2 separate regions of the Homo sapiens genome follow, and region 2 is linked to region 1. Evidence: fine-mapped expression QTL. A gene starts in region 1. The other region holds a variant in brackets. All regions are shown on one strand. Distances are from middle to middle.

The links. PIP is the estimated chance that this variant, and not a neighbour inherited with it, causes the effect.
Region 2: its variant is fine-mapped to the expression of GOLGA7 in whole blood (INTERVAL, PIP 0.98).

Annotation. Positions count from the first base shown.
Region 1 is chr8:41,483,284-41,500,010 of GRCh38, reverse strand. GOLGA7 (golgin A7) reads right to left here and starts at 9,429. Exons shown (of 5, transcript NM_001002296.2): 1 at 9,046-9,429; 2 at 2,350-2,502. The coding sequence starts at 9,156. RefSeq lists enhancers at 8,799-8,908, 8,959-9,068, 9,359-9,488 and a silencer at 9,539-9,798.
Region 2 is chr8:41,441,939-41,458,665 of GRCh38, reverse strand. LOC124901938 (a long non-coding RNA gene) reads left to right here and starts at 15,726. Exons shown (of 2, transcript XR_007060897.1): 1 at 15,726-16,069. The variant C/T (reference allele first, on the strand shown) is at 9,435.

The DNA of each region.
Region 1 (16,727 bases):
ACTGAAACAGACTGAAAGCTGACATAGAGCCTTGATAACTTCTGATTTTGAAAGTTTAAACAGGAATGAAAGCTTCTCTGTGTATTGATATGGAAGGGAAGAGCACGGTCCCTTTAAATCATACAGAAGCAGGCAGGGAAGTGCTGGGTAGAGAAGGGCATGGTCCCTGGCTAGCGCTCCACCTCCAGGCCTGTGCCCAGTAGTGAAGACAGACATTTTTGTTTTCCTGCCCAAATGCTGCATTTCCACCCTGGCCTGCCACACCCCTATCCTGTGCCTATAAAAGCCCTGAGACCCCAGCAGGCAGACAAACAGGTGGCTGGATGTCAAGAGGTGCACATTAGTGGAGGAACACACAGGGTGGCTGGATGTCAAGAGGAACACACTGGCGTAGGAGCACACTGGCACACCGGTAGGCCATCAATTGGCAGAATCAGGTGGAGTTTGGCCAGGGTGGTTGGAGAAGAGTTCGGTCATCGAGCGGCCTGACTCCAGGGGAAAACTATCTCCCTTCTGGCTCCCCCATCTGCTGAGAGCTACTTCCACTCAACAAAACCTTGCACTCATTCTCCAAGCCCACATGTGATCCGATTCTTCTGGTACACCAAGGCAAGAACTCTGGGATACAGAAAGCCCTCTGCCCTTGTGATAAGGCAGGGGTCTAATTGAGCTAACACAAGCCGCCTATGGATGGCTAAACTAAAAGAGCACCCTGTAACATATGCCCACTGGGGCTTCAGGAGCTGTAAAACATTCACCCCTAGACACTGCTGTGGGGTTGGAGCCCCACAGCCTGCCCATCTGTATGCTCTCCTAGAGGTTTGAGCAGCAGGGTACTGAAGAAGCAAGCCACACCCCATCACACGCCCTGCGAGGGGGACAAGAGAACTTTTCCTGTTTCAACATGGGGAAGGATATAAATAACTATACTTAAATATACCTGTTTATATGAGATGGAACAGGATGGTAATGAAGAATACAACAGCATTTTCAGCCAACAGCTCCAAAAACTTTAGCTGCAACTATATGCACTCTCCACTACATGGAGTGTAAGACATTTCTATCAGATGGGTCATAATATATTCTTATAGCATTTCGTTTTCTAAGCACTGTCAGAATTTAGTGATATACCAGGGGCTTACCATGATTAATTTACAGTCATTTATTTAACATACATTCAATGAGTGCCTGATATACCCAAAGCATGGTGTTAGGCATGAAGAGGGATACAAAATGGTTAAGGCATTGTCCTCAAGAAAAGTACATACTTGAAAGGCAAATAAGACAAGAAAATAAACTGCTACATTCCAAAGAAGAGTGAGGCAAGTGCCAGAAAACAGATACAAATAAAATGTTGTAGGGACACAAGAGAAGAGAAAGAATTCTGACTAAAACAGAGAACAAGTTAGATGGAAGTGAGACCTAAGGGACTGGTGGGATTTGAACCTGGGAAGATAGCATTCCAGGTGGAGGAGAACCACAGTGGGTATGTTTGCTGACCAGTGAGGGATGGAGTTTGGCTGAGGGAGAAAGTGAAGGAAGGAATGGGAGGTAGCGCTGGAAAGGTAAGCTGAGGTCAACTTGAGCAGGGCCTTGAATTTTACTCAGTGGTAAAACATGGGAATCCAGGGAAGGTCTCCGACTTGGCAGAAGTAGTAGGGGAAGTAAATCTGCGCTTTATAAAAACAACAGCAGATAGTTTAGAAAAGCAAAAGGAGGGAAGAAATGAGACAAGTCAGACTATTTCAATAGTCTAGGAGAGACAGAATAAGGGCATAACCCAGGATAGTGGCAGAGGAAATCACAAAAAGTTAATGACTGGGAAAATGAAAGATACTTCAGTCTTTGAAAACAGATTAATTTTTCCCTCTTCTTCATCCCTCATGCCCAAAGATGGTACTGAAAAGACAGGGGTGCTATTGACAAAATGGGGAGGTGGGAGGTTTGACTTCTGGTCATCTTAAGTTGAGAAATCAGCAATTCGGGAGCTAGTAGGCAGCTGGAAAGAGAAAGTAAGAACTCAGGTGGGAGAAGAGAGTGAAATTTAGGGAAATAAAGTAAAAACATTCCCAGAAAGCTGAGTAGGAAGAGAACATATAGATTTTCTACATTCTTCTTAAGTGTAGGCCAGTCTGAACATTGACACATCATCTGCAAGTGGACATACCAACTGCAACCTGTTTTGAAAGACTCAGGACTATGTGCCTCTGTACACAGGAACAACACAATTTGAATGATAAATGCCCCTAAATATTTTACGGCAACTATCACCATGTAAGCATCAATGTGTAATAAACTTGCCTTCTTCATGATTTTAAGAGATTTTTGTGAAAACAAATGTAGCATTACCTTCTCATAATGAGTTTCCATGCATAGGAAGATGGTATATGCTGTTAAACAAGCCAAACAACCTTCGAGATATGACTGGCCGCCGAGCTTCTCTGCTTCTGCATAAAGGTTATTTAGAGTTCGAACTGTTTCTTCAAACTGCTGCCTATCAATCTGTAGAGAAGAAAATATTTAAAAATTAAGTTTTGGAAAAAAAAAATCAACTAATGCATGCTATCATTAATTTATCTTGTTTTCTCACCATTCTTAGTTGACAATTTTTTTGGTGACTAAATCTGGGCCTAAGTTACCAAAACTGCTTAATTTGTTTAATTTTATCCCTCTTATAAATACTGGATAGCTTCAAGGCTCAATAAGGTACTTCTTTATTCTTTCTACTAAATTTCAAGTAACTTTAGGCTCTATTCCTCTTTCCATTCATTTAGTTTCACACTTACTGAGCGCCTACTATCAGATACTATGAAAAATCTCAAGATAAAGCACTGTCTCAATCCTTAAGAGTTTAATTATGCAAGCAGAACAGGCAATGTAAACATAAAAATGCAGTAAGCTGGCCAGGTGCGGTGGCTCATGCCTGTAATCCCAGCACTTTGGGAGGCTGAGGTGGGCGGATCACGAGGTCAGGAGATGGAGACCATCCTGGCTAACATGGTGAAACCCCGTCTCTACTAAAAATACCAAAAAAAATTAGCCGGGCATGGTGGCGGGTGCCTATAGCCCCAGCTACTGGGGAGGCTGAGGCAGGAGAATGGCGTGAACCCGGGAGGTGGAGCTTGCAGTGAGCCGAGACTGCGCCACTGCACTCCAGCCTGGGTGACAGAGCGAGACTCCGTCTCAAAAAAAAAAAAAAAAAAAAAGCAATAAACTGACAGGGTACTATCATATAGGCAAATATAAAGCCTAGTGGGGACACAAAAGCAAGGAGAAATTCCCTTTATCTGGGAAGGGCAGGTAATCTTAAATTGAGTAACTAAAGACTGGAATTTACTAGGCAAAAAAAAAAAAAATGGCATTTTAGCAGAAGGATCAAAAGGCGTAGGTTCTATATTCTGTTTACTCAGCCTATCTCTTTTGAAGCAATTATCTTGTTACTAAATAAGGTAAAATTTGTTAAGGTAAAATCTCAAGCTAATAAACAATTTTTCACATTAAGTCATTCTTATTACCTCTTTCTATTTGGTGACACCATTATCTTAAATTTACACTAATACTACCACAGGTTGAGCATCCCTGATCTTAAATTCTGAAGTCAGAAAGGCTCCAAAATCTGAAACTTTTGAGCACTGACATGATACCACAAGTGGGAAATTCCAAACCCGACCTCATGTGAGGGGTCACAGTCAAAATGCAGGCGCACAACACATAGTTTATTCAGTGTCCCCAAGAGAAAAAGACCCTTCCAGCCCCCATCAGCTGCCATGTATCTTTTCCATGCACAGCCAGATTCTCCCATGCAAGCGTGCTCACAAAGGGTGATAAGATGGTTCAGTGTACACACACTTTGTCTCATAAAGTCATTTAAAATATTGTATAAAATTACCTTCAGGTTATATGTATAAGGTGGATATAAAACATAATGAATTTCGTGTTTAGACTTGGATCCCATTCCCAAGATATCTCATTAGTATAAACAAATATTTCAAAATCTAAAAAAACCCCAAAAACTGAAATACTTCTGGTTCCACATATTTCACATAAGAAAGAACCTGTACTGTCATCCATTGTTTCACTCAATCATCTGCTTTTACTTTATTCTTCCAATATTACTTTACTGTCTTCTAATAGTACTTTGTATAACAGATTTCAAATTTTGCTACTTCATCCCAGGACTTTCAAGGCCCATTAGGAGAGCAATCATCCAATACTGCCATTCTTATCTGTCTGCACTCTAGGCCTTCTCTCGCATAAGGATTCCCTTATTTCTAAAATTAATAACTACTTACGTATGAATTCTCTCTTTTATGAAGTCCTTATTTAAAAGACTTTTTTGTTTGGCTTTTTTTTTTTCTCCTTTCCTGTCTCTGTGAACCTATTAAATCTTTCTTTATAATAGAAACCGACTCAGAAAAAAAAAAATCAGGCTGGCGTGGTGGCTCATTCCTGTAATCCCAGCACTTGGGAAGTTGAGCTGGGTGGATCACTTGAGCTCAGGAGTTTGAGACCAGCCTGGGCAACATGGTGAAACTCTGTCTCTACTAAAAATGCAAAAATTAGCCAGGCGTGGTGGTGCATGCCTATAGTCCTAGCTACTCAGGAGGCTGAGGTGGGAGGATTGCTGGAGCCTGGGAAGTGGAGGTTGCAGTGAACTGAGATCTCACCACTGCACTCCAGTCTGGGTGACAGAGTGAGACCCTGTCTCAAAAAAAGAAAGAAAGAAAAAAAACCCTCAACATACAGTATGAGCCCTACTATTCACTATTCCCAAGAATGTAATCTTTTTTTTTTTTTTTTTTTTTTTTGAGACAGAGTCTCACTCTGTCACCCTGGCTGGAGTGCAGTGGCGCAATCTTGGCTCACTGTAACCTCTGGTCCCAGGATCAAGTGATTCTCGTGTCTCAGCCTCCCGAGTAGCTGGGATTACAGGCGTGCACCACCATTCCCTACTAATTTTTGTATTTTTAGTAGAGACGAGGTTTTGCCATGTTGCCAGGCTGGTCTCAGGCTCCTAGCCTCATGTGATCCACCCCCCTGGCCTCCCAAAGAGCCACCTGCACCTGGCCTCAAGAACATAATCTTTTAAAGTGTAAAACAATTCATGACCATCCTTAAGCTATGACAACTCTTTAAGTTAGAAGCAGTTGTAGTCATTGTTTTGTCCGTTGTGTGGAAAATGTGAGGAGTCAATGGGCTAGTGGCATGCATGAATTTAATGCAAACTTTAAAGTGGTGTTGGCTCTACCCATTTTTCAAAAGGAGTTACTTTAAATTTCCAGGAATATTAGAGATTTGGACAAAGGCTAGGTGGGTCAAGACGGCCTTTAAACGCAGGGGCAGTGTTTCTTCACTGAGCTACCCCTTGTAGATGTGGTGTCAAGGCTGGTCATCTGGGAAACTGTGAGTTCTCATTCACGAAAACAGACTGAGGAGAGCTCAGCAAACAAAAATGGTAAGCTGTTACGTTCACCTAATTATGCCTACGTTAATGCCTTCAGTTTGTCCACCGATAAGTCTACAAAAGTCTAAATAATTCCAATCACATTTGATGTGCCTATGTTATAAGTCATTGAATTATTTATATTTCTTTACAATACAATTCAAAACCATGGGATTCAACCCAGAAACATCTTATTTCTTTCATATCAGAATTACTGTTTATCCCGGAAACCCTAATTATTATTATTTTTTAAGTTTAGTGACAGAGTATCGCTATGTTGCCCAGACTGGTCTTGAACTCCTGGCCCCAAGGGATACTCCTACCTCAACCCCCAGAGCAGCTGGGATTACTTGGGTGCAAACCACCATGCCCAGCCAGAAACACTTAATTCTTATGCGTTATTCCGAGATTACAATGCCCTATAGGTTAGAGGTAAATCATACGTCAGTTAAACAAACAAACAAAAAAAGGTTAATAAAAAAAGAAAAAGAAAGGATAAATGGTTAAAGAAAAGTAAATGCCAACAAGTTTTTGAAAGGTTATTTTAAAAAAGGGAAATAAAGGGTAAAAATCACAGAAGGCATCAATAAAGGCAAACGACAAACTTCACAAGAAAGGGCTCAAGAGAACAAATGTTGGCATTTGTATCTTACTACCTTTAGGCTATGAATAACAGTGGCCAGTGTTCTCCCTTAGGTTCCTGGACACTGATACAGGAGCTCTATCAAAATTTAGATATATGAGAAGTCACAGCCAAATAAAATTTGGACCCACAAACATCAAAAATCAGAATGGAAAGAGAAATCAGGCTTATTTTCCCAGAATTACTGTGAACTACACAGTAGAAAGCATGGTGAAGCATGCAGTGATCACGTATCAAGGGTGGCAGGTCAAAGGTAATTACTAACCAGATGGGGAGACATATTTTTAAAGGGAAAAAATGCCTCAATTACAGTTCACTCATTCTTCTACCCAGACCAAGGGTAACTAAGATATCTGTATTTTAAGGCTAATGAGAATAAAGTTTCCTTTAAGGAATTGTTCTGGCAACAAATCGCTTAAGCATCAAAGTATTACATTCTAAAAGGCAGCAGAGAAAATGAACTTGTTAACAGACAGAACCTATCCTACTCCCAAATTAAAGGGCACAAATGTGTGTGTATTTTTAAAAAATGCTTTAAAATAATACAAAACACTTGCATATTAGTCACTTTCTCTATTATGTTGCCAAGTGTGATGTTCTCACAAAAGGAAAATCAGCTCCAATAGCAGAGCAATCAGTAAAATTTCTAGGGTAAGTAGTAGAGAAACAGAAACCTTTCAATTTTTCATCAAAGCAAGGAAAGTTTAAACCTGTAATTTAAATTTAATCTCAACACACATACACAGACAATCAAAGCTTTTCTAGTGGTTTAAAGCATAAGCTAGTGTTTTAACCCAAACATTTAAAAAGAAAAAAGAAATTCAAAGGCACAATTGAAGAGTGCCATGTAACATTCCATATAGTACTCAGTACCACAAGCAGTTCTGGGCTATACAGAGTCAAAGAGGTAAAAGGACTCCAGAATTTAGAAACATCAATTTCCTGACAAGAATCAGTGGAGCACAGTAACTACATTGTGCTTTTGCACTTAGATTACAAAATAAAGGCTCTGCCACACACAGAGTGGAAGGCTAATGTCTGATTCTGTGTATACACATTTAGCTCAAATATATGAGGTGTAAGTGTTGCTTTAAAACCTTAAAGCAAAGGAATCTTTAATGTCCAAATAATTGTGGTAAAAAAAGAATACTTTATATTCTGATTTTGAAGTACATAAATTGTATGTCATAGTTTCCGTAAGAGGCTTAAAAATAAAACATTTGATTGATTCCATGTATATCTTTTTATTTGATTTATTTTTTGAGACAAGAGTCTTGCTCTGTCGCCCAGGCTGGAGTACAATGGCATGATCTCGGCTCACTGCAACCTCCGCCTCCCAGGTTCAAGAAATTCTTCTACTTCAGCCTCCTGAGTAGCGGGGATTACAGGTGCCCGCCACCATGCCTGACTAATTTTTGTATTTTTAGTAGAGATGGGGTTTCACCATGTTGGCCAAGCTGGTCTTGAATTCCCGACCTCAAGTGATGCACCCGCCACGGCCTCCCAGAGTGCTGGGATTACAGGCGTGAGCCACCGGGCCCAGCCAGATTCCATGTCAATCTTAACATGTAAAACACATCAATTGTGATGTTAAATTATTTTAAAACAACATTCAGTAGCTCTACCCAACTGGCCACTTGCTGAATTTCTACCTCTTCAAACCACTGTAGATAGTTCCACCTATTGTCACGCTCAGTTAACTCATAACATAGTTGACAACATACTGCAGCATTTAAATGGCATTTCAGAAACAAGTCACCTCACCATCTTTTAAAGGCATATTTGATCCATTTGCAATTCAAGAAACATATTTGGGCCATGAAGCTGCCCATGGTTATGTCAAACTGAAGGAAACTATAATGGATCATTGTTGATTTCCCAACCATGGAAATCGGGCAGTGCAACCCACCTCACTGCAAACTGACTGTAAATAACTGCTACACATTTCTCTACACAGACTCATCCACACCCACTTATCCCATGACCAGCATCTCTCAGTCCCACACCCAAGGAATGCCTAATCACCTCTCAGGCCCTCGTCCTCCCTGTCACAGAGGAGAGAGCCACAAAACCTGCTTCCAGCTAACCAGAAATTGATCCCTGAACGGGAAACACAATCTACATAACATGGGTCAAGACCAAAAGAATCTTTGGTTGAATGTACATATGTGGGCACACAAAAACACAGGCAGGCACGCACACACTCCATTACCTCTACAACAAGATACAATGATTTTTTTTTTTTTTTTAAAGTTTTGCTAGGTCTGAAGGGGAAGCAAATCCCATTCTTCCATTTTTGCCTGCAATGTTGCCCAAAGGACCTATATCCTGATGACCATTTTGATATGCAAGACAAAACAGGTGGCTCCCAGTGAATGTGACAAGTTTAAGGCCTTGTTCTGAGACATTTTCCTGTCCAGGCCTATCTAACGCCCGACGTCTTTAAGGTTCCAAGAAAGCCTGAACGCACCGCCTGGCCATGCACCTAATAAACCCTTTCAGCCAAACAGTGCGGCCAGCACAGAGGCAGCAAACACCAGTCACGAGAATGATGATGATTTATCTTGCGCGGAGAGGTAGGAGGATATAGTTTACAACCTGGTGACTGAGACGACCTGGAGCCTCAGGAATTGGCTCCTCATCGCTGCCGACAATAACCCGGGGTGGGGATTTGGGGGAGTGCAGCAGGGGAACACTGCTGGATCCAGATTCCCGGCACCGGGCAACAAAGTTCCATAAGGTCGTCAACCCCGGCGATCGGCCTATATTATTCTTCCTGCTCCAAACACCTGTCTTGCTTAGTGGCTCTCTTCTTACACGTTTGGCCAAGGCCCCTTCTGTGCCTGGACCTCCCCAGAACTGCGGGACCCTCAAAGGCCCGGTTGTCGCCCACACCCTTCCCGTCCCCGGTGAGTCTCTCTCCCTCGCCAGAGCAGGCGTGGGGAGCCAGGTTGCGTACCCGGTTCTCCAGCTCCGCAGGGAACTTGGTCTGGAACTGGCAGCGTGTGCCACTGCTGTAGTCTCGCTGAATGAACACCTTTCCGGACACCGGCGCCTGCTGCGGCCTCATGGCGAGGACAGGACACCCCGCGCTGCGGGGTCGGGGGAACACCAACCGCGAGTCAGAGCCCCGGCCTGGACCCGGGACTCTGACCCGCCAGCCCCTCGCCCCCACCCGCCGCCGAAAACAGCCCAAGGCCTCCTCTGCCCCGCTCCCCTTCACCCATGCTGTCACCGCGGGCCTTAGCTGCCGCCTGGCCCAGGCCCCGCGCCCCCCACAACCCGGTTCGGCCCGGGAAACACAAACCCGCCTCCTCTGCCCTCCAGCTGCTGTCGCACCGCCTTCGCCGTCACTTACGTCCTGCCGCAAAAAGCCTCTTCCCCGCCCCTCAGCTCGGCCTCCTACCTCAGGTCTGGGACCCACCCTCTCCTCCGGCCGTAAAGCCACCCTGCCGAAGCTGCGCGCTGTGGGGCTGGGCCGAGGAAGGGAAATGATGTGGGCGGGGCCAGGGCCGACCCCGCCTTCCGCCCGCGCGGGGATTGTTTCCGGAAGGAGAGAGGCGGGGCGAGCTGTGGGGCTGCGGCCGGGGCGAGCTGTGGGGCTGCGGCCGGCGCGAGCGCGCGGGGGTGTGAGGGGCGGAGTTTCCCGGCTGTGTCACTTCCCTAGTGATTGTGGCAGGTGGTTCCCGATCACTGATTGTGAGGGGTCATTTTCGTTCTTGATTGGACGTCGCAGCTTACGTGTGGGTTATGCCACCCAACTCATACACAAAACAAAAAACAAAACATAAAGAAAAAACAACACCCCCTCCCCAAACCCTCAAACACAAACTGCTCATTGTGTTCAGAAGTAGAAAGCAGGCTCCAAGGATGGATCCATTTGGTCCCTAGACTCTTGAGAAAGGGTCAGGAAGTGAGGACGAAGAACCTGCCTGGGCCCCAGCGTTGGGCGCCCCTGCCCCGACTCTTCTTTGGGGGCGGCGTTCCTCTCACCCCCCATTTCCACCCAGCTCCCATCCACATCCCTCAGGTGACCAAGGGGACAAGTGGTTCCGCCCTCGTTGCCCACTGGCCCTTACTTGACTCAGCATTTCTTTGCAAGGCAGCCAAAGAAACCCCACCTTACCCTTGTCTCCTGCTAATACAACCTGTTAGTACCACTGTCTTTTATATATTTAATATAGTTTAAATATCCTGCCTTTTAAATATGAAAAATTCTCTTACTGTATTTTAAAAACAGCTTTTTCGAGATATAAATGGCATACAATAAACCACACATTTAAAGCAGTGGATTTGATAACTTTGGACATATGAATACACCCATAAACCACTGTCACAATCAAGATAGTAAAGCTCCATTGCCCTGAAAAGGTTCCTCCAGCTCCTGTGTAATCTCTCCCTCCTGCCTCTCCCAGACCCCATTTCCCAGGCACTGATCCACCTTCTGTCACTCAACATTAGTTTCATTTCCTTGAATTTTATATAAATTGAATCATATAGTGTGTACCCCCTTTTTTTGCCTGGCTTCTTTCACATAGACTATTTTGAAGTCCATCTGTTGTTGTGTTATCAATAATTCATTTATTTTTGATGCTGGATAGCTATTCCATTGTATGGCCATCCCACAGTTTGTTTATCCATTCATCTGTTGATGGACATTTGGATTGCTTCCAGTTTTGGGATGTTACAAATAAAGCTGCTATGGACATTCATTTGCAAGTCTTTGCATAGGTGTGTAGACCTTAATGCTTTCATTTCTCTTGGGTACATACCTAGGAGTAGAATGGCTAGATTGTACGGTAAAAACACGTTTAACTTTTTGGCAGACTGACAAACTGTTTTCCAAAGTGGTGACACCATTTTGCATTCCCACCAGAGTTCCAGTTGCTCCACATCTTTGCCAAGACTTGGGTAGTAATATCTTCTGCAGCTATAATTTTCATTTTTCCATGACTAATTATTTTGAACATATTTTCCTGTACTTATTTGCCATCCATGTATCTTCTCTGGTGAAGTGTCTATTTAAAACTTTTGCCCATTTTTTTGTTTGTATTTTATTTTCCTGTTGTTGAGGGGTTTTTTGTTTTATTTTGTTTTGATTTACATCTTTATTGGCTGGGCTTAAGGTCAGTTTTAAATTTTTAAGGCACTTTAATTCTTGGATTTTTGTATGTTTAAAGATGTTTTCCTGAGGCCTTTATACTTGCGTGAGAACTTGGCCGGGCTGTTTTTGAGTTTTGAGTTCTTTATACATTCTGGAGAAAAATCCTTTATCAGATATGTGATTTGCATGCATTTTTCACAGTCTGTGATTTGTCTTTTTACTCTCTTAACACGTTAGGGGTTTGAGGGGATTAGGGTGTGGACCTCTTGGGGAGGGCATTTCTGCCTCCCATAGGTATAGAGTGAAACTCTTCCCTCCCCCCGTATGATTATGCAGTTGTTATTCAGTTGTTTACGTACCATTTGTTGAAAAGACTCTCATTTCTTCACTGAATTGCCTTTGTATCTCTGTTGAAAATCAGTGGGGGCCGGGCGCGGTGGCTCACGCCTGTAATCCCAGCACTTTGAGAGGCCGAGGCGGGCGGATCACGAGGTCAGGAGATCGAGATCATTCTGGCTAACACGGTGAAACCCCGTGTCTACTAAAAATACAAAAAATGAGCCGGGCGCCGTGGCGGGCGCCTATAAGTCCCAGCTACTCGAGAGGCTGAGGCAGGAGAATGGGGTGAACTCGGGAGGCGGAGCTTGCAGTGAGCGGAGATAGTGCCACTGCACTCCGGCCTGGGCTAAAGAGCGAGACTCTGTCTCAAAAAAAAAAAAAAAAAAAAAAAGAAAAAGAAAATCAGTGGTGTGTGTGTGTGTGTGTGTGTCTGTCTGTCTGTCCCTCTGTCTGCCTGTTTTGGACTTTCTATTCCGTTTCATGATCTGATCCTGTTTTGAATTAAATGTCTACTAGTGTTTGTCTCCGAAGTTGATGCTTCCTTACTAACTCAGTAAGATCTCCTAGGAGCTGGTTTTCTACATATTTGTTACTAGGGGTTGAGAACACCCTTAAACAGGTAAAACAGTCTCTACCCTCAAAATTTCAGTCTAATGGAGTGAACGAAGAAAACAATTTTCATACATTGTATATTTGGAGTATTTTCCTGCAGCCCTTGGCCACTGAGACTAGGTGGTAAAACAGACTATTATTATTATTTTTTGAGATGGATCTCACTCTGTCGCCCAGGCTGGAGTTCAGTGGCACGATCTCGGCTCACCACAACCTCCGCCTCCTGGGTTCAAGCCATTCTCCTGCCTCAGCCTCCCGAGTAGCTGGAATTACAGGTGCGTGCCACCACACCCAGCTAATTTTTGTATTTTTTTGCGTAGAGACGGGGTTTCACCGTGTTGTCTAGGCTGGTCTTGAACTCCTGACCTCGTGATCCACCCGCCTCGGCCTCCCAAAGTGCTGGGATTACAGGCGTGAGCCACTGCACCCAGCAAACAGATTATTTTTGAATGAGGAAATTTGAGGGCAAATATAACCCAAGGAAAACCCTCTTCATGTTTGGGAAGAGGATCGATCCCAGGTGAAAGAGGAATCAAAGGACGATGAGCTGTATTGTTATCGTCTTCCCTCATCCCTAAACACACTCATGTGTCTAGATTCTAGTTTTGCCATTAAAAGTAAAACAGCAATTACTTTTGTACCAACCAAATAGCTTCTGGCAGTTACCAGCAATCCTTGGAATTCCTTGGCTTATGACAGCATAACTGCAATTTCTGCCTCCATCTTCCCATGGCCTTCTTCCCTGTATCTTCTCTGTGTCTTGAAATATTTCTCTCCTTATAAAGAGCACTATTCATTGGCTTTAGGGCCCACCTAATCCTGTCTGACCATCTTAACCTGATTACATCTGTAAAGACCCTATTTGCAAATAAGGATCTGGGGTTCCCGACTGACATGGATTTTGGGGGACACTATTAAATCTAGTACATCTACCTTGTAGAGGGTGTCAATGTGATATTGTATGTAAAACACTTAGAATGTGTTTGGCACATAACAAATACTGTATGGTACTCTGTTTTTTTTTTAAATTATTACATCATTAGTGACATAGTCAAATGATTTGCTAACATTAACATCATGATAGCAGCAGCTACTATTCATTGGGCTATTAGTGTTAAGGAACTAGGTTGAGCGGTTTATATGCATTACCTCATATAATCTCTACTATATCTATTAATCTAGTAACCCTGGCCAAACAATGATAATACTATATAATACAGATATGATCTATAATCTATGAGCTCACTAGCCCTACACTATTATTTTATTCCTTTCTATGTTTTCAACAATCCTCTGATATTTTAAGGAGCTGAAGTCAAGCTATTAGTCTACAGTATTGACAATTCATTCTTCCTTTTTGAATTTTGAGTCCCTTGTCTATGTTTAGCTTCTTTGAAGCCTACATATTATCTATTTTATTCCTCTGTCCATAATAGATTCTCATGAAATGCTTTGAAAATGAATTCATTCAACAAATATTTGTCGACACTCATAAGGGCTGGTGATGAAAGGATAAAAAAAGTGTGGATTATTTATGTCCTGTGGAAATTCACATTCTTATGGGTGGCCAGGAGGGTGGGAGGAGGGAGATTATAACAGGTTAAAAAACTTTGGGGAAGGGGAGGGGTTTTAACAGAAGGAGAGATAATTGGGCATTCCAGCCTCTCTGTCCAGGGAATGATAAGTATTCATACCTGAAATAAGTAGGATCTGAAGTCTGCTTGGGTGAGGGTCAGGTGGGAGTAGGGATGAGAGATCTTTAATAGAGAAGAGAGATGGTGATAAAAATCTTATATCCTTTTACACACCCCTCTATCGTTTCTTCTCCAAGGTGAATGAACCAGCTTCCTTTATCTTCGATGGTAGGATCTCTATTCCAAAGTTTCTGTCTTTTTGTATGACTCTCAGAACCTTCTGGTGTTTCAAACTAGATACTCTGATAAGAGCGTTAACCTGTGCTGAATATTATCAGTGAAATCCTTTTGTCCCTCCATTTTCAACTCTGTTTTTTTTTCTCTATTGGAACAAAGCTAGCTTTTCAATGCGGGGTCCCATTCTGTATCACCAACTCATGTTCAACTTTTGACCCATCCTGGATCATTTTCGGCCCTGCTTACAAACAGCTTCCCACGCTGCAGATGGCGTCTTCTCTTCAGCTACGATCTCTCCTGGGCTTTGTTCTATTTGTGTCCAACCACTTCCTCCCAGGTCCTTCATAAAGATCTCAATTGGATTGAAAGACGTCCTTATACTAAAGAAATTTTAAACTGTCCTCCTTGGCCATGCTCACGTTGCTCACCGAAGCCATCCCCGTTTCGTCTAACATCGTTTTTTTTGTAGTAGTTGTTTTCTTCTAAAGCTTTGAGGCATGACTGGGGTGGGGGCAGATCAAATCCATTTTCCTCGTTTTCAGTTCTAGTGTCTACCATGCACTGGTACAATGGGCAGAACTCCAAGGATCATTGTCTCTTTGTTTTCATGCATTTGCTGGTAATTTCAAGTCAGCTTCCGTTTTATAAGCTTGTATGTCTTTATTGCATTTTGAGAGAACATTATTGGCATACCTGAATTGACAGCATCTGTTCCTTCCATTTAAATTTCACCATCTAAAACAACGTGTGTCCCAGTTTCAGGAAACAGGCTGAACAGATGCCAGACAGTTGTACTGAATGCTCTCTCCATGAAAGAGCTGCTCTTGCTTACATTTTTGTTTATTTCATTGTGAGGGAGAAGAGCAGATTGAATGATGTCATTAATAAGGGTCCTTTGCCTTTATTGTTTAGGATCCTATTGAAGACCTCTCATATCTGAAGTGGCTGGTGGATAAGAGGGTTTGGAGATTTCAGACTCTTTTCACCAGCACAGTGTAGAATTGCAGAGCTGGAAGCAAGGGTGGTGTCACGGGTGTGTGACTTGTATAGTTGCATAGGGATCTGCACTGAGAAGAGCTCTCTTCTTGGCTTAATGTCCTGCTGTCATCATCTTGAAATTCGTAATACTTTCTGAACATGGGAGTCTGCACTTTAATTTTGCACTGGGCCTCAAAAATCATATAGCTAGTTGTGGATGGAAGAAATATGAGGGCATCTAGTGGGAACACACCATCATTATCTGGGATAGATGATTAACTGTCCATATCTTCTGTGGAACCTGATTTGACGGCAGTTTTGACAAAAGTAAAAAGAAAAACAGGCTGGGTGCGGTGGCTCACGCCTGTAATCCCAGCACTTTGGGGGGCCGAGGCAAGCAGATCACGAAGTCAGGAGTCGGAGACCAGCCTGGCCAACATGGTGAAACCTCGTCTCTACTAAAAATACAAAAATTAGCCCGAGGTAGTGGCATGCCCCTGTAATCCCAGCTACTCGGGAGGCTGAGGCAGGAGAATCACTTGAAACCAGAAGGTGGAAGTTGCAGTGAGCTGAGATCGCGCCACTACACTCCAGCCTGGGCAACAAGAGTGGAACTCGGTCTCAAAAAAAAAAAAAAAAAAAAAAGAAAAGAAAAGAAAAAAAAGACCTCCCTCCTTAGAATTGTACCTCCCTTGAGTTGGAGGGGCCTGGTAAACATCTGGCCCAGGTGTCCTTCTTAGAATCTGGCACTATTTCAACTATCTTTATGACCTCTAGGGATGAAAACTTCACAATTCCCCCTGTGGGCTCTTCCATGTGCACTGCATGTTATGTCTAATTTTCCCATAAAGGACAAATACTCACTAACACAAAGGATTAATTTCTACGGTTGCTTTATAGTAATATGCATTCTAGGGCATTGGAAAAATGGGAAATGAGGCTGTCTGTAAAATCCCCTCCACCCACTGTGGGATAGCATTGTTGAAAAAGGGATGCATACTTTAATCTTTCCTTTTGAGAGAGCAAAATTCCTGTCCTTTTGACATTTGTTACTGGAGATACATTTATAGAGGGAATGAGTTGGACAACTTGAGGCTAGAAAAGAATCAAGATGAGGAATGACTGGAGTAAAGGATCCCAAAAAAGACAAAAGAGAAGATGGGAGTGTAGAGGATGTTGTTTTGAGAAAGGCACATTTGTGGCTGGAGACTCAGAACCCTGCTTAGTATGTTTTAGAAGCCTCTCTGCTTTCCACACTATCCATTCACAAATGTTATTGAATCCTGCTTTGCAGAAAGCACTCCGTGTTCAACTCAACCTCTGTACCCATCACACCTTTTATGGCTGAGTGGTGCTGAACCAAGTGGTATCCATATCGTTTGTAATATGTTTTTCATTCTTTGATATGTCAACCTGAAATAATGGAAAGGATCAGAATCCAGTTTTAAAGAGCGTATTCAAGTGAAAAGTTGGGAATAGCCATCCGGGAAAACCAGACTCCAGAGAAATGGAGCGAGTGCTCTGAAGTTAAAAGTTAAGGTCTTGCTTATACCGACAGAAAACAAATAAATTTGGGAGGATCATAACATTTTCTATACAAGGCTGGTTTATAATCAAATTATAACAATTTGATTAGTTTGTTTTCTATATGGCTTGTTTTCATTTCCTCTCCAGTTTAAAAGAATATATTTAACATTCCATCTTAAGACAATATGATAAAGTCTTTGTGTGAGAGAG
Region 2 (16,727 bases), 41 kb after region 1:
AAGGTTGCAGTGAGCCGAGATCGCACCACTGCCCTCCAGCCTGGGTGACAAAGTGAGACTCCATCTCCAAAAAAAAAAAAAGAAGGGGTGGATTATTCATGAGTTTCCCAGGAAAGGGGAGGGGAATTCCTGGAACTGAGGGCTCCTCCCCTTTCTAGATAATATAGTATAACTTCCTGATGTTGCCATGGCATTTGTAAGCTGTCATGGGGATGGTGGGAGTGTCTTTTAGCATGCTAATGCATTATAATTAGCATATAATGAGCAGTGAGAACAACCAGAGGTCATTTTCCTCACCATCCTGGATTTGGTGGGTTTTGGGCCAGCTTCTTTACTCCATCCTGTTTTATCAGGAGGGTCATTGTGACCTGTATCTTGTGTCAGCCTCCTGTCTCATCGTGTGATTAAGAATGCCTGACCTCCTGGGAATGCAGCCCAGCAGGTCTCAGACTGATTTTACTTAGCCGCCATTCAAGATGGAGTTGCTCTGGTTCAAATACCTCTGACATCATTAGTGTCCTCCAATCTGTGATAGTTTCTCCGTCTTTCTTTTTTTTTTTTTTTATGAGATGTTAGTCAAGTATTTTGTAGAATGCCCCTCAATTTGGATTTTCTCATGACTAGCCTGTGGTTTTGGGAAGACTACAGATGAGAGTTTGCATCCCATCGCATCTCATCATGGGATACATGTTGTCATGACTTAGTACAGGCAATGTGAACCTTGATCATCTGGCCAAGGTAGTGTTTGCCAGGTTTCTACCCTGTAAAGTTACTTTCTCCCCAACTGATGCTCTGTTCTTGGGAAGCAAGTCACTAAGTCCAGCATACACTGAAGGATGAAGGGGTTGGGGGAGAGAATTGATTCTAATTAAATGAGAATCTTTCTGGTATTTTGCTATTATGACGTCGACTCTTGGTTTGTTTTAGATATTCTTGACCATGTTAGAGATGTAACTAAAGAAACGTATTTTTACATGAGCATCAGCTACCTAAATTATAATTTGGGGAAGAAATGAAAAAAATGAGCATAGGGAAACAGAAGGAATTTGAAGAAATTAAAACAATAGAAAGAAATTTTACTACTTGAATTAATTCAGAGGAAGCTCATCTGAATTAGTAAAAAGTCTATGCAGAATCTTTGACTTATTCCTTTTTATCTCCACAGGTTCTAAAACACTATATTTTGGGAGTACAGCAAGGGTTGGCGGAATGGAACTGAATAAACAAGTGGGTTTGTTATCCATCTCCGGAAGAATCTCTTAATTTTCTTGCCATTTAAAGTGTATTCAAGCCAGAAACATATTTCAGGTTCCTTTTAAATCTTCTGTAAAAAGAAAGCCACATTCAAAGGATTTGAATAGACATTTCTCCAAAGAAGATACACATGGCTAATAAGCACATGAAGAGATGCTCAAGATCATTAGCCATTAGGGAAATGCAAATCAAAACCACAGTGAGACACCACTTCCCATCCATTAGGACAGCCAGAGTAAAAAAGATAGTAACTATTGGTGAGGTTGTGGAGAACTTGGAACTGGCAGGGATGCAAAATGGTACAGCTGCTTTGGAAAATAGTCTGGCAGTTTCTCAAAAAGTTAAACATAGAGTTACATGACCCAGCAATTCCGCTTCTAGGTATACACCCAAGATAAATGAAAACGTATGTCCACACAAAAACTTGCACAAGAATGTTCATAGCAGCATTATTCATAAAAGGCCAAAACTAGAAACAATCCAGGTATACATCAATTGATGAAAAGATAAATCAAATATGTCATAGCCACACATCAGAACATTACTGAACAATAAAAATAAATCAACTACTGATACATGCTACAGTGTGGATGAACCTTGAAAACATCATGCTGGGCTGGGGGTGGTGGCTCAGGCCGAGTGTGGTGGCTCACACCTGTAATCCCAGCATTTTGGGAGGCTGAGGCGGTTGGATCACCTGAGGTCAGGAGTTCGAGACCCACCTGGGCAACATGGTGAAACCCTGTCTCTACTAAAAATACAAAAATTAGCTGGGTGTGGTGGCACATGCCTGTAATCCCAGCTGCTTAGGAGGCTGAGGCAGGAGAATTGCTTGAGTCTGGGAGGCAGAGGTTGCAGTGAGCCAAGATTGCACCATTGTACTCCAGCCTGGGCGACAGAGCGACACTCCGTCTCAGGGAAAAAAAAAGAAAAAAAAGAAAAAAAAGAAAACATCAGGCCGGGTACGGTGGCTCACGCCTATAATCTCAGCACTTTGGGAGGCTGAAGTGGGCAGATCACCTGAGGTCAGGAGTTTGAGACCAGCCTGACTGACATGGAGAAATCCTGTCTCTACTAAAAATAAAAAATTAGCCAGGCATGGCGGTGCACGACTCTAATCCCAGCTACTTGGGAGGCTGAGGCAGGAAAATCACTTCAATCTGGGAGGTGGAGGTTGTGGTGGGCCGAGATCGTGCCATTGCACTCCAGCCTGGGCAACAAGAGCGAAACTCTGTCTCAAAACAAAAGCAAAAACAAACAAAAACAAAAACAAAAACATCATGCTGGAAAGAAGTCAGTCACAGAGGAGCACATATTGTATGAGTCCATTGTATGAAATGTCTGGAATAGGAACATTGACAGACAGAAAGTAGATTGGTGGTTGCCTAGGATGAGGGAATGACTGCTAATGCATGAGGAGTTTCTTTTGGGGGTGATGCAAATGTTCTAAATTTGATTGTGGTGATGGTTGCACAACTCTGAGTTTACTAAAAACAATGGAATGGTAAACTTCAAATTAGTGAATTGTATGCTATGTGAATTATATCTCAATAAGGTTATTATTTTTTAGAAAAAGAGAGAATGGCAGATTTTGGAATATGGCTCCAGTTTAAACAGACACTAAGGGCATAAACGCAGGCCACAAGTAAGCGAACAATACAGGGAGTGCAGGAAGCAGTTTCAAAAACACAGGACATCATAGTTGCTCTAGAGCTGAGGATATGCTGGCACTCACGGAGAGAGACAGTGACCTCCTGTGTGATGACTTAAGGGCTGAAGTTCCAGTATTATGTGTCGGTATTAGAAATTCCTTCTTTCTTCTTTCTTTTCTTCTTTCTTTTCGTCTTTTTTTTCTCTCCTCCCCTTTCTTTCTCTTTCTTTATATCTTTATCTCTTTCTATCTTCTTTTTCTTGACATGATCTCACTCTGTCACCCAGGCTGGAGTGCAGTGGCACGATCATAGCTCACTGCAGCCTCAAATTCCTGGGCTCAAGTGATTCTTCTGTCTCAGCCTCCCAAATAGCTGGGACTGCAGCTGTACACCACCATGTATGCCACCATGCCTGGCTAATTTTTAAAAATTTTTTGTAGAGATGGGGTCTTGCTATGTTTCCCAGGCTGGTGTCCAACTCCTGGCCTCCAGGATCCTCCCACATCAGCCTCCCATAGCACTGGAATGACAGGTGAAAGCCACCTTGCCAGGTCATAAATTTATTTCTTTAGATTACAAACTTGAAATACAAGTAATCCAATACACAGTGTAAATCCATGCATGAACTTTTTCCGATTGACAACGAGGGCAAGCAGGGTTGGATTATGGAGGAGATCAGCCTCAGAGGGAGCCTGCAGGGACAGACGGCAGCTTGCTGTGCTCTAGAGAACTGGCGATGAGGACGGCCAAAATGAGAGGTCCAAAGAGGCCCCACAGCATAGCTAAGGGCTGTCCTAGGGGTCTCCTCCATTCCAGCCTCTGCCCTGGCCATAGCTCCATAGCTCATCACTTTGGGATGTAGCCTTGTGGTTCCATCTGTCTTTTTTTTTTTTTTTTTTTGAGACAAAGTCTCACTTTGTTGCCCAGGCTGGAGTGCAATGGTGCAATCTTGGCTCGCTGCAACCTCTGCCTCCCAGGTTCAAGCGATTCTCCCACCTCAGTCTCCTGAGTAGCTGGGATTACAGGCGCCCAAGACCACACCAAGACCACACCCAGCTAAATTTTTTTTTTGTATTTCTGTTAGATACGGGGTTTCACCATGTTGGTCAGGCTGGTCTTGAACTCCTGACCTTCAAGTGATCTGCTTACCTCGGCCTCCCAAAGTACTGGGATTATAGGCATGAGCCACCGCACCCGGCCATATCTTGAACTTTCTCTATCAATTAGGAAGTGGGCTTAGGTTTTTCATGCCTGTGACCCACTTTCAAATTCACTCTTATTGCCTTATTCTTTTGGCCATCTTTGGGTATCATGATGCTGTTGGAACAGAACTGCTTCCTGCGCCATCGTGCTGGTTGAATTACTCATGAGATAAAGCTCTTTTGTGGTGCATTCACTTCAGACCCTCATGCATGTAACTGCAGGTTATATCCATGCCATGTTACAGGACCCTCTCAGCTCCATGTTCTAGCCAACACATATTTTGTAATGGTATGTCGAAGAAATGCATTTTACATATTGATCACTAATTGCTTGCTATGGTTTGCAGGTGAGCCACACACCACTGTGTCAAAGTACACTGACTCAGAACTACAGTGCTACACAAGACACACAGATGGGCATGCACTTGCACACTTACATGCAAACACACTCTGTTGAGGGGACCAGTTCAGATTCAGATTTAGGTTTTCATCTGTTTTATATTAAACCTGTAATCCTTCCCATAAGCAAAGCTGGACTTTCCAGCAACTCTCGTTCTTTCTCTGGGCTTCAGGTTTCTTATCTAAAACAAGGAGACTGAATCTCTGGGGTTTTTCTACCTTCCATGGTTATGATTTAGGGTGGGAAAGTGATCTCTCTAATGAGGCTGAGCTCCTTAAGGTTAGAGTTGCTAAATCATTTGTAAAGGGTTTCCCCTTCTGTAACACTGAACAGGGTTATCCTCTGCCATTGGGCATGGGAGGGAGGGAGGATAGTGTTTTCAAGCTACCTCCTACTTTCCAGAATTAAAAGAAAAGTCCCTTTCTTGGTTGAGACTTGCTAATCTAGCTCTTTGTAGGAAATGCTAAGTTAGGTAGCCACTGATTTACTGAGTGCCAGTACTTTGACCCCGTGCACTAACATTATTTTGCACTACATGTGCCTCCTGGACTTTCTTTGATAACTTAAAAAAAATCAGCTTTTATTTTATACTCGGGGATACACATGCAGATTTGTTACATGGATATATGCATGATGCTGAGGTTTGCGGTACCACTGATCTCATCACTCAGGTAGTAAGCACGGTACCCAATAGGAAACTTTTTAGCCCTGGCCCCCACCCCCCGCCCCCCTAGTAGTCCCCAATGTGTGTTGTTGCCATTGGGTAATGTTTGGATAACTTTGGCTTGTTTTTCTAGATTGCATCAGAGAAATGGGAATCCCCCCAGCATATCCCCATCCCCATTCTTCATTCTCTTTGTCTCAAGATAGGCTGGGATGCTGGAAGAAAGCCCCCTTTTGCAGCAGAGCATCTGGGATCCATTTAGGGCCCATAGTGCACTGGCAGAAGAAAGTGACCTAGCATGCTGGCCACAACTGCATCTGTTCCCTGTGCAGGTATCAGAGGGATCACGGCCCCTCCGGTAATTGCTGGAGACAGGGTCAACAGGGCTGAAGCTTCCTTCTCCTTGGGCTCCCTCCCCGACCCCACCACATTCCCTCTTGGGAAAGGCAAGTTGCCAATCCTGTGACACCCCATCTGTCTGACTTACTGCAGCTCCTCCTCCCTCTCCACTCCCACTCTGCCACCCCCATCCCGAGGGCATGGGCTCAATCAATCTCTCCCGGCACCAGGGAGAGACTGAAGTCAGACAGTGGAACTAATGGCTTAGCTCCCCAGGCACCTGGACAACATCCAGGGCTCTGGACACATTCCATGGCGGGGCCATCCATCTCCTTTAGGGGTGCCTTTGCTAACCCAAACATCTGAGCAAGAAGATCCATCTTACCCTACTCCAGGGATATGGGCTAGAGGGAGCATTACATCTGCTATGCTGGGTAAGAGCCAGCTCAGAGCCAATCACTGCGGGAAGACCTGGGCCAGGTAGGCAGGAATAGAGAGTAGAGAGGATGTGAAGGGTCTGATATTCATGGAAACCTGCTGGGGGTTACCTAAGACACACGGACGCCTCACTCCCATGTTACTAAACAAAACATTATAAGGCATATTAAAAGGCAGAAAACACATTTGAAGAGATGGAGCAAGCATCAGAACCGGATTCAGACATGGCAGGGATGTTGGAATTATCAGACTGGGAATTTAAAACAGCTATGATTCATATGCATAAAGGCTCTAATGGATAAAGTAGATAGCATTCAACAAAAGATGGGAAATGAAAGCAGAGAAATGGAAATTCTAAGAAAGAACCATAAGAAATGCTAGAAATCAGAAGCACTATAATCCCAGCATTTTGGGAGGCCGAGGCAGGAGGACTGCTTGAGGCTAGGTGTTCAAGATGAGCCTGAGCATATAGTGAGACCCTGTCTCTACAAAAAGTTAAAAAAAAAAAAAAAGCCAGATGTGGTGGTGTGTTTCTGTAGTCCTAGCTACTTGAGAGGCTGAGGTGGGAGGACTGCTTGAACCCAGGAGGTCGAGGCTGTAATGAGCTATGATTGTGACACTCCACTCCAGCCTTAGCAACAGAGCAAGACACTGTCTCTAAAATCAAAACAAAAAAACACTCTAAGAGAAATGAAGAATGCCTTTGGTGGGCACATTAGTAGACTGGACACGGCTAAGGAAAGAATCTCTGAGCTTGAGGATATCTTTATATAAACCTCTTCAATTGAAAAGCAAAGAGAAGGAAATAGAACAAAGTATTCAAGAACTGTGGGACAACTACAAGAAGCATAACATATGTATAATGGGATACCAAAAGTAGAAGAGAAGAAGATGTCAGGGGTTTGAGACCAGCCTGGCCAACATGGTGAAACCCCATTTCTACTAAAAATGCAAAAATTAGCCGGATGTGGTGGTGGGCGCCTGTAATCCCAGCTACTTGGGAGGCTGAGGCAGGAGAATCGTTTGAACCTGGGAGATGGAGGTTGCAGTGAGCCGATATCGCGCCACTGCACTCCAGCCTGGGTGACAAAGCAAGCCTCTCAAAAAAAAAAAAAATGTTAAAAGATGTTTTTTAGAGAGCAAGACAATGATACAGGTCGGAAACTGGAATCAATACATTGATATTTTGGTCAATGAGAGACCTCATGTAAGATGGTGGTCCTGTAAGATTTTAATGGAGCCAAAAAACTCCTATTGCTTGTGATGTGGTAGCTGTCATAGTGTTGTAGTGCAATGTATTACCTTTTCTATGTTTGGATATGTTTGTTTATTTATTTATTTTTTTGAGATGGAGTCTTGCTCTGTCGCCCAGGCAAGATCTTGGCCTAGTGGCATGATCTTGGCTCCACTGCAACCTCCTGGGTTCATGTGATTCTCCTGCATCAGCCTCCCGTGTAGCTGGAATTACAGGTGCCTGCCACCACACCCAGCTAATTTTTGTATTTTTAGTAAAGACGAGTTTTCACCATGTTGGCCAGGCTGATCTCAAACTCCTGACCTCAAGTGATCTGCCTGCATTGGCCTCCCAAAGTGCTGGGATTACAGGCGTGAGCCACCTCGCCCAACCTCTATGTTTAGATATGTTTAGATTCACAAATACCATTGTGTTCCAGTTGCCTACAGAATTCAGTAATGTAACATGCCGTACAGGTTTGTAGCCTAGGAGCAATATGCCATGCTCTGTAGCCTAGATGTGTAGTAGGACATTCCATCTAGATTTGTACAAGTACACTCGATGATATTCACACAATGACGAAATCATCAAACAGTGCATATCTCAGAATGCATCCCTATTGTTAAGCAATGCATAACTGTATTTGAAGCAATAATAACTGATAATTTCTCCATATTAATGTCAGATCCAGGAATTTCTGAAAACACCAGCAGGATAAATCCAAAAAATCCCTACACCTAGGCACATTATTATATTCAAACTACAAAAAATCAAAGATAAAGAAAAAAATCCTGAAAAAGCCAGAGAGAAGACATTTTACCTAGAGAGAAACAAAGATAAGAATTACATCTGATTTCTCCTCCATGCAAGCAAGAAGAGAGTGTAATAAAATATTTAAAGTGTTGAGAGAAAAAACTCTACTAACCTAGAATTCTGCACCTAGAATCCTGCAAAATTATCCTTCAAGAGTAAAAAAGAAATAATAACTTTCTCAGACCAAAAAAAAAAAAAAAAAAATCCAGGGAATTTTTTTACTGTGGCTCTACCTTGGAAAAAATGTTAAAAGATGGCCGGGCGTGGTCGCTCACGCCTGTAATCCCAGCAATTTGGGAGGCCTTGGCAGGCGGATCACTTGAGGTCAGGAGTTCGAGACCAGCCTGGCCAACATGACCCCGTCTCTACTAAAAATGCAAAAATTAGCCAGGCACAGTGGCATGCGCCTGTAATCCCAGCTACTTGGGAGACTGAGGCAGGAGAACCATCTGAACCTGGGAGATGGAGGTTGCAGTGAGCTGATGTCGCGCCACTGCACTCCAGCCTTGGTGACAAAGCAAGACTCCGTCTCAAAAAAAAAAAAAAAAAACTGTTAAAAGAAGTTTTTTAGAGAGCAAGAAAATGATATAGGTCAGAAACTGGAATCTACATAAATAGATGTATTTATAATGCTTGGAAGAGCATCAAAAAAGTGCAGTGAAAGTAAGGTATTAAAAAATCCCAGCTTACACTGGTTTTGAGATACAAAACAAGGAACACATACCTTATCCTTAAGGAACTCAGGTTCTTTTTTTTTTTTTTTTTTTTTTTTTAAACAGAGTCTTGCTCTGTTGCATAGGCTGGAGTGCAGTGACGTGATCTTGGCTCACTACAGCCTCTGCCTCCTAGGTTCAAGTGATTCTCCTGCCCCAGCCTCCTGAGTAGTTGGCATTACAGGTGTGCCATCACACCCAGCTAATTTTGGTATTTTTAGTAGAGATGGGGTTTCACCATCTTGGACAGGCTGGTCTTGAACTCCTGACCTCAGGTGATCTACCCACCTTGACCTCCCAGAGTGCTGGGATTACAGGCATGAGCCACTGGACCTGTCCAGGAACTCACACTCTAACAGGAAAGAAAAGAAACAGCAGAGCTCATGGGAAAACTATGGGCTTTGGGATCAGAATACTTGAGTTCCAGGTTGAGGTCTACCGCTTAGGAGCTTTGTGTGTGAGGCAAGTTACTTGACTTCTCTGATCTGTTTCCTCAGTTGAATAGGAGATAATGAGAAGTAATGTATACACATATAAATAGGAGTTCAACAAGTGAAAGTGTTGTTATTATGTGATTATTTAGATAGCTCAAATACAAGTCAGGACATGAAAATTACACAAATGAGGACCTGACAATGTGCTGAGGAAGGCAGAAGGGAGGGGCCATGGTTTTTCCCATCGGGGGAGTCAGAGACATCTTCATGCAGGCAGTGGTCAAGAGAATA[C/T]GATTCGTCTTCATTCTCCTGTCATTTAAATCAATGTCTGCTGTTTGGGCTGGGCACAATGGCTCACGCCTGTAATTCCAATAATTAGAGAGGCTGAGATAGGGGGATCGCTTGAACTCAGGAGTTCGAGACCAGCCTGGGCAGCATAGCAAGACTATGTCTCTACAGAAAATTTTAAAATTAGCCAGGTGTCATGGCATTCACCTGTGGTTTCAGTCACTGGGGAGGCTGAGGCAGGAGGATCACTTGAGCCCAGGAGTTCAAGGCTGCAGTGAGCTATGGATGGTGCCACTGCACTCCAGCCTGGGTGACAGAGTGAGACCCTATCTCTAATCTCTCTCTTTATCTATCTACCTACCTGCCTACCTACCTACCTACCTACCTATCTAAACTTCTATTTATTGAGGACCTTCTATGTGTGCGGACATTGAACCACATGTTTTATATTCATGATTTCACATAATCCATCCAACAGTATTGTCAGGCAGAGGTGATGATTCCAGTTTCTCAGAGGAGAAAAATGATATTTCTCAAGATTAAACAAGTTGCCCCGGTCACACAGCTAGTGGATGGTGGAGCTCCGAACCCTAATCCGAATGACTGCATTCTAAAGCTTGAGGAGTGGGGTCTTAGTTTAGAGGCATGGTGCTGTCCACACTGACGATTACTCTTCATTCCAGAAGAGACTCCTCCATTTATCTTTCAGACAGTTCACAAGGGGGCAGGCTGCTCTTGGAGGGTCCTTGGCTCCACTCATCGGTTTCATATACTTAGCTAAATTCTGAGATTTTTAATTGAAAAGATTCAATCAGTGAGGAGAACTGGAGCCCAAAGCAGAAAACCCAGGCTGAAGTTTGTCGTGTGCACTCTGGGAGGGTTAGGAAAAGGCTTGCTAACTGAGAGGAGCACAGATTCCAGGGCTTGCACCAGAACCAGGTGCCAGGCACCAAGACCAGGAGGTCTTGGTCCTTGCTGGCTGGGCACCCAGGGGTCAGAATGAAATTGGAGACCCAGTAAGATCAAGGCTTCCGTTTGAAGGTCCTGTGCCCCTGTACTAAGCAAGGATGACGAGCGCAGGTGTGGATGTCAGGGGCTTCTCACACATTCTGCCTCTAAATAGAGTTACACCCAGAAGTTGAATTCCTGGAACACCAAAAGCACAGTCAAGCCCAGTCTTCCCCTGTAGGCAGCAGCATTTGATACAACCAGATTCTGGGACACTGAGAAAATGTGGGCGATCCCTTGGGGTTTCTTTTAATAATAACCTTTTGTGTTTGTGCAAACTTCATTCTTAAAGCACTTTCATAATCCCTGTTGCTGAATTCTCACAAAGTTCCTGGTCCTGACTTTTCTGTGGAAGCAAACAGAAGTGACCTGATGAGGTGGAAATCACTTGAGATTGGCATCGAGTGAACGTGGGGTTTGACTCTTCTTCTGGATTTAATAGCCGTGACCTGGGTGAGTTATTCACTCTTTTAAGTTTCAGTTTCCTTCTGTGTGCAGTGAGGATTATCCTCAGGCAGGGATTAAGTGACATCTGATACATCAAGTGCCACACAGCGCCTGGCCCGATGCCAAGTGCTCGACAGGTGCCAGTCCCCTTCCTTTCTGCCTCTGTCCACTTCACTCCTGCTGTCTGCCCTTTCAGTCTGGCACCCCTGGCAGCTCTACCTGAACTGGGATGACCCACTGGCAAGGTTGTCAAGGCAGAGTTTCTGCATGTGCCTTTTGTCACAAGGCTGGATGTGGAAGGCTGAGTAAGGTTGGTGCAGAGGCTGTCGGGGGGTCCAGGTGAGAGCTCGGGTTCAGCGTCAGTCTCTGCTGCTTTGTGTTCCTCTCTGGCACAGTGGAGGGAGACCCGTGGTGTCCTGTGGTGTGGGCACATGTGGGTGGGTTATGGGGACAAGCTGGGAGCACCATCAGCTATGAATGGGGAGGTGACAGTTACTCAGTGTGTTTCTTTGTGTCTGGGTTGGGGGAGGACTGGGGCTTGACCTGCATGAGATGGGGGGAGGCTGGGACTTGACCTGCATGGGATGGGGGTGGGGGACCTAGGATTTGGCCTGCATAGGTTTGGGAGGTAAGACAGGCACCATGTCATTCCAGGGACTTGGAGGTTGTTGTGCATAGAAGTGGTTAAAGACTGCATCTCTGTATTTTTGGATTCCAAGTCAGGACACATGGTCTGATACAAGTAAGCTCACAGCAGAAATGGCACAGAATATGTGAAACCAGGAGCATGCCAGGAAACCCAAGACACGTGATCACTGAGCCTGTTCCATCTCCTGAGAGGAGTTGGTTATATTCATTTAGAAGTTTGCTGATGCTTTTTCTGGGAACTTGTTTATTTTCCTTTCCTCAAGGTAGACAGAAAGAAGTCAGGATAGGTGGGATAGGAACTGAGAGGTTTATATATTTGTTTATTTATTTTTTTACCTTTAGAGACAAGGTCTCACTCTGTCATCCAGGCTAGAGTGCAGTGGTACAATCATAGCTCAGTGTAACCTCGAACTCCTGGGCTCAAGTGATTCTCCCACCTCAGACTTGGGAGTAGCTAGGACTACAGGTGTGCACCACCATGCCTGGCTAATTTTTAAAAAAACTTTTTTGTAGATACAGGGGCTTGTTATGTTGTCCAGGCTGGTCATGAACTCTGAGAGGTATATTTTTAGAGGAACAGAACCTTTTAGGCCTTCCTCCACTTTCCCCAAAATGTAGCACCTTCCATGAACCTCGAATCCAGATTCAGGCTGCATGTTTAAAGACAACTTAAAAAACCCATGCAATCTTTCCTTATATTAATTTTATTGAATAACTTTTCTTTCAAAATCAAACACATCAAAGAGTAAAATGGCACTTGATATATAGTTCTTGTTATTTGAAGTAGTTATGCTCTATTAAGTCACAGTGGACACTGAATTAGTGAACACTGAACCACTGCTCCTGGAAGAAATACAGGGTTAAGTTCCTACGAGCTTCTGGTCGCAGCGTTTTCATCAACCAATCAGTATGTAACTTTTGTTTTATATGTGTTTCTGTTTAAAGTTGCCTTATTTAATATGTAATTGTTTAATGACCATTGAATATTAACATGGAACTCATGCGTGATCAAAGCTTATCTAATACATGTATTTTCTCCATAAGGCAAATCACAGTTTTCTTGCATTTAGTAGTGTTAGAAAGTACTTCAGCCCTACACTTGGGGGCAACAGTGAAATCACCAAAAAAATGCACAAAAATGTGAAAACGTGGCACTAGAATGACTTCAAAAAGAGCATTTATTTACAGAGTAAGAGCTGAAACAAGAAGGCAGAATGCTGTCTTATTCAACACCTGGGAATGTGGGCATTGGGCAGCTTGAATTTCTCACTGTTGTGCAGGTTTCCTTGAATGAACATGAACACCAATATATGAGCGTTGACTTGCGGAGTACAAGGAAATTTTAGTGAGTAGGAGAATTTGCAAACATATAATCTGTGAATAATGAGGATCAACTTGACTTTTCTTCCTCCATCTTCCCTCTCCCCCACACCCCCAAGTGCTTTTGGCAAAACCAGACTTCAGGGAAGACAATCACAGAATAAATTGACAGGATTCCTTTGCTTTGGAACTTGCCTGGGAACTTAGCATTTATTTATTCATTTATTTATTTATGTACTATTTTTTGAGATGGAGTCTCACTCTGTCGCCCAGGCTGGAGTGCAGTGGTGCAATCTTGGCTCACTGCAGCCTCCACCTCATGGGTTCTAGCAATTCTGCCTCAGCCACCCAGGTAGCTGGGATTACAGGCATGTGCCACCATGCCTGGCTAATTTTTGTATTTGTAGTAGAGACGGAGTTTCACATGTTGGCCAGGCTGGTCTTGAACTCCTGACCTCAAGTGATCCTCCTGTCTCAGCCTCCCAAAGTGCTGGGATTACAGGCATGAGCCACTGCCCCTGACACTTAGCATTTATTTTAACTTTAATTTTAGGTTGATAACTAATTGAAGCCATTCTGTCTCCTCAGGTCTAGGTAAGCAATGGTACTGGTCTAGGTAAGCAATGGTACTGGTCTAGGTAAGCAATGGTACTGTCCAGCTATCGCCTTGCAAGGTATACAAAGACCTTCCAGATCTGACATGTTGTTCTCTTCATTGCCCTATCTTCCTCCATGCCCTTCCCAGTCTAGCTCCAGCCATACTGAACTCCGTGTAGTTTCCTCCTATGCATATGTGTGTTTGCATATTCTGATCTCTATGCCCAAGCTCTTTCCTGCCTGCGCTGGCTTTTCAAGTATTGCCTCCCTGTGAAGCTTTGACAGTGAGATCCCCCACTCTGTTCTTGACGTCCTAAGCATGCAAACCTATTTACCTTGTTTTATTTTATTTATTTTTTGAGACAGGGTCTCATTCTGTTACCCATGCTGGAATGCAGTGGTGTGATCTTGGCTCACTGCAGCCTTGACCTCCCCAGGCTCAAGCAGTCCTCCCACCTCAGCCTCCTGAGTAGCTGGGATTACAGGTGTGCCACTGCACCCAGCTAATTTTTTTTTGTAGTGATGGGATTTCACCATGTTGCCCAGGCTGGTCTTGAACTCCTGGGTTCAAGTGATCCACCTGCCTTGGCCTCCCAAAGTGCTAGGATTACAGGCATGAGCCATAGTGCCTGGCCTCCTACCAGGGCGTTGTCTGTTTACCTGTTTGTTTTTCCTTTAAGAATGTAAGCCCTTTGAGGGAAAGGACCCTCTCTCACCTTTGTCTACCAGTGCTTGGCAAGCAGCTTCATGAAAGGAGGGATAGAGGGGTGAAGGAGGAAGAGAGTGTTCCAAGATGTTGACACTTCTGCTCACGGTGGTTGAAAACACAGGTATAAGCTAATTAGGATTCATCAAAGGAAGAAAGCAAGGCATCTTATTTTTCTCTTTATTTATGTAACTGTGCACGAGCTTAAAAAGTTAGGTGTAATTTTCACAAAGGTTTAAAATAATTAGGAGTAATTTATTGGAAATCCTTGTGTTCAGCCAAATATGGTGTAAATTACAGACCTTTCATTTCACATTTCTATGAAATATATTTGACTGATAGTGGAGAGCAATAAAGTGGAGTCTTGATCTTGTGCCCCAGAAGTAATCACTATGTACCCATTGCAAGTCATTTCACCTTTTGGGACCTCAGTTTCTGCAGCTGAAAAATAAAAACATTAAGAGATTACACTGGAGTGAGAGTGTTCTGCTGTTTCTATCTGCCCAGCATCCTTTCTGTCTAGGATTAGGCATGGCCAGAAGAATCAGACCTGATAAATCTTTGTATTTCCTCTATCTGGCCAGAAGAATTGGTTCAGGAATGGACATATGATTAAAGTCTGAAATTCTGGAACTTTTGGCCAGGTGTGGTGGCTCACGCCTGTAATCCCAGCACTTTGGGAGGCCAAGGCAGGTGGATCACCTGAGGTCAGGGGTTTGAGACCAGCATGACCAACATGGTGAAACCCCATCTCTACTAAAAATACAAAAATTAGCCAGGTGTGGTGGCGCACACCTGTATTCCCAGCTACTTGGGAGACTGAGGCAGGAGAATCACTTGAACCCAGGAGATGGAGGTTGCAGTGAGCAGAGATCACGCCACTGCACTCCAGCCTGGGCAACAGAGTGAGACTCCATCTCAAAAACAAAAACAAACAAACAAAAAAACCCAGAAAACTTTTGTTGGAACTATTAGTTTAACATGGCAGATGAGATGCTATTAGTCTCCCTCCAAAATCCATTTTCTCCATCTCCCTTAGTAACAGAACTCTTGACTTTTAGCTGGGTTTATATCTTCCAGGAACAAAGATTACACTTCTAGCCTCCCTTACAACTAGGTGTGGGCATATGATTACATTTGACCAAGGATTTTTTTTTTCTTTTTAAGAGACGGGGGTTTTCCTTTAAGAAGTGGATAAAAGACATGAACAGACACTTCTCAAAGGAAGACATTCATGCAGCCAAAAAACATATGAAAAAAAGCTCAACATCACTGATCATTAGAGAAATGCAAATCAAAACCACAGTGAGATACCATCTCATGCCAGTCAGAATGGCAACTATTAAAAAGTCTAGAAACAACAGATGCTGGTGAAGTTGCAGAGAAATAGGAACACTTTTACACTGATGGTGGGAATGTAAATTAATTAATTTAACCATTAATTAACCATTGTGGAAAACACTGTGACAATTCCTCAAAGATCTAGAAACAGAAATACTATTTGACCAAACAATCCCATTACTGGGTATATACCCAGAGGAATATAAATCATTCTATCATAAAGATACATGCATGCGTATGTTCATTGTAGCACTATTCTCCTTCATTCTATCATAAAGATACATGCATGCGTATGTATGTTTGTGGAGGAACTACACAGTCCTGGACTGCTTACTTTGGGATTTTGTTTATGTAAGACAGAATGAACTTCTAGCTTGTTTAAACTGTTGTCACTTTGAGTTTTCTTTTACTTGGCAGCTTAACCTAATCCTGATTGATAGAGAGCTATCGGGAAGGACAACCACTGGGCTTCTGAGATGACCGGCTGGAAGCCTGAACCCGCCGGATGGTCATCTTGCCACCGCATGGGAAGGAAGGTTGCCTGAATAAAGCTGACATAGAAGGAGGCAAGGTAGGAAACAGAGACTCCCTCAGCCCCACTGACATCAAAGAAGCCACTGTATCTGGCTGTGCTTGAAGCTCACAGCTTTTAACTTTTCAGTTTATGTGTGACACTACTTTTGCCTAAATGAATTTTGTGTTAATCAGGGTCTTTGTCTTTCACAACTGAGAGTCCTATCCGATACAAAGCAGCAGAACGACTTCTCCCAACAACTTCTTACTCAGAAACCCAATCATATTCAGAAGGGGCACAAAGAGCTTCTTCAGCTCAGGCAGGGTAGGAGGATGGAGCCTGAGATCTCTCAGGAATTGCTTGTTCTCCTCACAGCACAGTCTGGAAAACACAAAACTAGACGAGTCTATGATCCTGTGGAAGAACAAGCTAATTCTGAGAGTTCATTTCAAAGCAAATGCCTGCTCCTTTTCTAGAATCACTCAAAGCCAGTTATTGCATCATTGCTACTTTTTAACATCTTTTTTTCTCCTTTGTTAGTAATGTTAATAAGGCACGTAGACACCTTAGTTGAAACAAGCCCAGCCCTCCCTTGGCTATTTCAACACATTCAGTATCCTCATCTTGAATGCTCATCTTAATCAAGATTCAGCAATCAGGTCTCTTAGTTTTAGATAATTCATTTATATTTTGACTTGTGAGGCTTGGGCTTAGG